Linked DNA regions of Homo sapiens: region 1 is linked to region 2. The links come from fine-mapping of genetic effects on gene expression. A gene starts in region 2. The other region holds a variant in brackets. All regions are shown on one strand. Distances are from middle to middle.

Region 1 (2,912 bases), 46 kb after region 2:
GTTAGGTATGCATGCAAGTCACCTAAGAAAGCAGGCAAAGATAAGCCTTCATATTCTTGAGACTTTTCAAATGTCTCATCTGACACTGCAGAATTCTTTCTGGCATTTTTGCAATTTCAACCATTTAGCATTAGTATGAGCGAAGTTTGACCAGCAGGCCATATGCTACCAACCAAAGCTTGCAATGCAGCTTAGAATTTAATTTCAGGAATCCTTTAATCCTAATAATGGAGAAATTGAGATTCACTTAGGTAAACTCAGCCTAGACCTAATTTGACCCTTGACAGTCAATGATTTCTAATTAGGTCTTGCAGACAGGGAAGGACCAATCAAGTGCAGCAGGCTGAACTGCTGTGTGTACAGTTTATGGCAAGGAGTAATTGGAAAATCCAGTCTGAGCCTGTACTTGGGCCTTTATAAGGGGTCATGGTTCAAGCTGAAGCCGACAGTTTCTCTCAGAGCAGCAGCTATGAGTCTTGCACCTCCCTGGTTGAGAATGAAACACAGTTCCCAAGAACAATTCGTAATCCCATTACATTTTAAAAATATAATTAAAGGGAATCTTGGTGGGTGGGTGGCAAGATGACAGAGTAGGAACAGCTCCGGTCTGCAGTTCCCAGTGAGATCAACGAATAAGGTGGGTGATTTCTGCATTTCCAACTGAGGTACCCGGCTCATCTCATTGGGAGTGGTTATACAGTGGGTGCAGCCCACGGAGGGTGAGCCAAAGCATGGTGGGGCATCACCTCACCCGGGAAGCACAAGGGGTCAGGGAACTCCCTCCCTTAGCCAAGGGAAGCCATGAGGGACTGTGCCGTGAGGAATGGTGCACTTTGGCCGAGACACTACACTTTTCCCACAGTGTTCACAATCCGCAGACCAGGAGATTCCCTCAGGTGCCTACGCCACCAGGGCCCTGGGTTTCAAGCACAAAACTGGGCGGCCATTTGGGCAGACACCAAGCTAGCTGCAGGAGGTTTTTTTTTTTTTTTTTTTCATACCCCAGTGGAGCCTGGAATGCCGGCAAGACAGAGCCATTCACTCCCCTGGAAAGGAGGCTGAAGCCAGGGAGCCCAGTGGTCTAGCTCAGCGGATCCCACCCCCATGGAGCCCAGCAAGCTAAGATCCACTGGCTTGAAATTCTCGCTGCCAGCACAGCAGTCTGAAGTAGACCTGGGACTCTTGAGCTTGGTGAGGGGAGGGGTGTCTGCCATTACTGAGGCTTGAGTAGGCAGTTCTTCCCTCAGAGTGTAAATAAAGCCACCAGGAAGTTTGAACTTGCAGGAGCCCACCGCAGCTTGGAAAGCCGCTGTAGCCACCCTGCCTCTTGAGATTCCTCCTCTCTGGGCAGGGCCTCTCTGAAAGAAAAGCAGCAGCCCCAGTCAGGGGCTTGTAGATAAAACTCCCATCTCCCTGGGACAGAGTGCATGGGGGAAGGGGCAGCTGTGGGCACAGCTTCAGCAGACTTAAACATTCTTGCCCGCC[A/G]GCTCTGAAGAGGGCAGTGGATCTCCCAGAACAGTGCTCAAGCTCTGCTAAGGGACAGACAAAGTCCTCAAGTGGGTCCCTGACCCCCATGCCTCCTGACTGGGAGACACCTCCCAGCAGTGGTCAACGGACACCTCATACATGAGAGCTCCAGCTGGCATCTGGCGGGTGCCCTCTGGGACGAAGCTTCCAGAGGAAAGAACAGGCAGCAATCTTTACTGTTCTGCACCCTCTGCTGGTGATATCCAGGCAAACAGCGTCTTCAGTGGACCTCCAGCAAATTCCAACAGACCTGCAGCAGAGGGGCCTGACTGTTAGAAGGAAAACTAACAAACAGAAAGGAATAGCATCAACATCAACAAAAAGGATGTCCACACAGAAACCCCATCTGAAGGTCACCAACATCAAAGACCAAGGGTAGATAAATCCACAAAGTGAGGAAAAACCAGCACAAAAAGGCTGAAAATTCCAAAAAACCAGAATGCCTCTTCTCCTCCAAAGGATTAAAACTCCTCACCAGCAAGGAAACAAAACTGTACAGAGAAAGAGTTTGACGAATTGACAGAAGTAGGCTTCAGAAGGTGGATCACAACAAACTCCTCCAAGCTAAAGGAGCATGTTCTAACCCAATGCAAGGAAGCTAAGAACCTCGAAAAAAATGTTAGAGGTATTGCTAACTAGAATAACCAGTTGAGAGAAGAACATAGATGATCTGAAGGAGCTGAAAAAAACAGCACGAGAACTTCGTGAAGCATACACAAGTATCAATAGCTAAATCAATCAAGTGGAAGAAAGAATATCAGAGACTGAAGACCAACTTAATGAAATAAAGCATGAAGACAAGATTAGAGAAAAGAGAATGAAAAGGAAGGAACAAAGCCTCCAAGAAACATGGGACTATGTGAAAAGAACAAATCTACATTTGATTGGTATACCTGAAAGTAACAGGGAGAATGGAATCAAGTTAGAAAACATTCTTCAGGATATTATCCAGGAGAAATTCCCCAACCTAGCAAGACAGGTCAACATTCAAATTCAGAAAATACAGAGAACGCCACAAAGATACTCTTCAAGAAGAGCAACCCCAAAACACACAATCATCGGATTCACCAAGGTTGAAATGAAGGAAAAAATATCAAGGGCAGCCAGAGAAAAAGGTTGGGTTACCCACAAAGGGAAGCCCATCAGACTAAGAGCGGATCTATCTGCAGAAACCCCACAAGCCAGAGAGAGTGGGGGCCAATATTCAACATTCTTAAAGAAAAAGAATTTTCAACCTAGAATTTCATATCCAGCCCAACTAAACTTCATAAGTGAAGGAGAAATAAAATCCTTTACAGACAAGCAAATGCTGAGAGATTTTGTCACTACCAGGTCTGCTTACAAGAGCTGCTGAAGGAAGCACTAAACATGGAAAGGAACAACCA
Region 2 (2,912 bases):
GAACTTTTCTGTCTTACAAGAGGATTGTAAAATGCACCAATCAGTGCTCTGTAGCTAGCAAGAAGTTTGTAAAATGCACCAATCAGTTCTCTGTAAAATGGACCAATCAGTGCTCTGTAAAATGGACCAATCAGCGCTCTGTAAAATGGATCAATCAGCAGGATTCTAAAAGTAACCAATCGTGGGGAGAATTGAGAAAAGGGCATTCTGATAAGACAGAAACAGGACATGGGAGGGGACAAATAAGAGAAAGCTGGCCACCCCAGCCAGCGGCAGCAACTGGCTCGGGTCCCCTTCCACTCTGTGGAAGCTTTGTTCTTTCGCTCTTCACAATAAATCTTGCTGCTGCTCACTCTTTGGGTCTGTGCCATCTTTTAAGAACTGTAACACTCACCACAAAGGTCCGCAGCTCCATTCTTGAAGTCAGGGAGACCAGGAACCCACCGGAAGGAACTAACTCTGGACACAATATTTTTTTTTCTTTTTTTAAATTTTTTTCTTTATTTCTTCTAAAAAAAAGTGGGATGCATGTGCAGAACGTGCAGGTTTGTTGCATAGGTACACGTGTGCCATGGTGATTTGCTGCACCTATTGACCTGTTCTCCTCTAAGTTCCCTCTCCTCACCCCCTACCCTACAACAGGCCCTACAACATTCCCCTCTCTGTGTCCATGTGTTCTCATTGTTCAACTCCCACTTATGAGTGAGAACATGCAGTGTTTGGTTTTCTGTTCCTGTGTTAGTTTGCTGAGGATGATGGCTTCCAGCTTCATCCATGTCCCTGCAAAGGACATGATCTTATTTCTTTTTATGGCTGCATAATATTCCATGATATTTTTCAAAAGAAAATATTTGCTGCCAACAGAAGATTTTATATTAAAATCTGTATTTGCAGCTTTTACTGAAAAGAACCTAAGGCCTTGCCATATTGGGCTCATTTTCTCAAATAGCAACATTTAGCTGAACTGAATAGACAGAGAAAGTACTTTCCAGTCAGATCATATCTGGCCCACTTTCCTCGTGTATGTTACCCTCCTCACTCCTGTAGGCATTTGCATGTGTAGTCACAAGCAAATGTGGTTTAGAAATTGTTCAGTGAACCATGTTGGAAAATGTCCCTAAACACAAGTCCTAAAGATGGTCTGTTATATTATCTTACAAGCACACAGTGGAAGGAAAAACAGTTAAGTTTTCTATTTCTGCCACAGCTTCTATAATTATTACCTTTCTTGTGCCCTAGGTTAATATCTAAAAATAGCTTTATGCTTTCTCAAACACATTTCACCAGCTCCCTCTGCTGATCCAATCTGAAGGACAAAACAGCTTAAATTCCTTGTAAGTCCTGAACTTTAAAATCACATTTCTGGGGTTGGAGAACTCCAAGCATGAAAGAACTTGATGAGGTAATGGTCATCTAAATAACTTTCTCCTTTGGACAGCTCCTATGGTAATCCAAGCAAGAGTCAGGGTGTAGAAGTTTGTTTCCAAAAGTAGAACTCCTGTTTCGCTGAGAAAGCTGTAATTTGGGGTGATTTGGCGCCCTCTACAGACTATAATGGCAAAAGCGACGCTATCATGTGCTTCCCATAGCTTTAGGGCTTTGCCAGAACTATGACGTTGAGGAGGGTGGGGTAAAGGGGCAGGAAGCGTTTATGTTCTGCCAATCCAACAGCTGTATTCTAACTCACCATTCCGCCCTCCCTTAAGATCACGGAAGTATCACGCTTGCCTCTTACACAACTTTTTTTCCTTAGTCTGTATACTTTCTGCTGTCACTAGCATAACAGAAAAGACGAATGGCTTTTGTTTTAAACTGAGGGCACTTTTACAAAAGTCATCTTTCCATTTATTTTTCTTTCAGAAAAAAGAATTTGGGTTTTGAGCTTTTTTAAAAAAAAAAGACAAACACTTTCCTTGACTTTGAGAAATAATTTAAGTCAAAGAATCTGCTCTATGCTAACCAAGGTAAGTGTCCTGGATTTTTTTTTTAATGGGGAAATGATCCAGAAACTGCTTTCACAAAAGATGAATGTTTTTCTTGGAGTGTGTTCCTTAAGAATGAATGTGATTATCTTCTTTTGGGGTCTCTTGACTAGGGCTAAAGCAAGAGAATTAAGGAGAGAGTCAGGAAGCAAAGGGAAGTTGTAAGGAAACAAAGTTATGTTGTGGACAGAACCATCCAAAAGGAAAGTGTCAGTGAGATAAACAGAATCATGAGACTTTCAGTGACTCCAGTGACCTCTGATTTCATCTTATGAATGAGATGGAAATGCCAGCCATTGGGAAACAAATACCCCATAGATGGCGTGGGAAAAAAATACTGTAACAAAGCAAGAGCATGGTAGGATGATGATAAGAAACATAAAATGATCAAATTTCAAATTCAAAGAAATCATAATTGATTACATGATTTGCAAATCACCCAAGTCTCTCCATGTCTCATAAAGGATTCCTACATTTGCTGGTCAGTCAGGTATAGGGTGGGGTTTTCCCGTTGTACAAAGGTCTAGTTCAATAGGTCAGGTCTCCTTTCTGCCAAGGGACTAAATATAAGCAACCTATGGCTGGCACGGTGGCTCACGCCTGTAATCCCAGCACTTTGGAAAGCCGAGGAGGGCAGACCACTTGAGATCAGGAGTTTGAGACCAGCCTGACCAACATGGTGAAACCCCGTCTCTACTAAAAATACAAAAATTATCCAGGCGTGGTGCCGCCTGCCTGTAGTCTCAGCTACTCAGGAGGCTGAGGCAGGAGAATCACTTGAACCCAGGAGGTGGAGGTTGCAGTGAGCCGAAATTGTGCCACTGCATTCCAGCCTGGAAGACAGAGTGAGACTCCAACTCAAATAAATAAATAAATAAATATAAGCACCTTTGAGCAACCAAGTACCTTATGAAGTCCACTTTATAGTTT

Which allele goes with the higher level. Positions count from the first base shown, and alleles are read on the strand shown. Sizes are in standard deviations (SD) of each study's normalised expression.
For the expression in putamen of the gene that starts at base 1,734 in region 2, A is the low allele of the variant in region 1 and G is the other (small effect, 0.25 SD a copy in GTEx).

The links. PIP is the estimated chance that this variant, and not a neighbour inherited with it, causes the effect.
Region 1: its variant is the best candidate, but not a certain one, in a credible set for the expression of FMO4 in putamen (GTEx, PIP 0.61).

Annotation. Positions count from the first base shown.
Region 1 is chr1:171,358,653-171,361,564 of GRCh38, forward strand. No RefSeq gene overlaps it. Among named protein-coding and RNA genes, the nearest start is that of FMO4, 46 kb to the left of the region's middle. The variant A/G (reference allele first, on the strand shown) is at 1,486.
Region 2 is chr1:171,312,450-171,315,361 of GRCh38, forward strand. It overlaps FMO4 (flavin containing dimethylaniline monoxygenase 4), which reads left to right and starts at 1,734. Exons shown (of 10, transcript NM_002022.3): 1 at 1,734-1,964.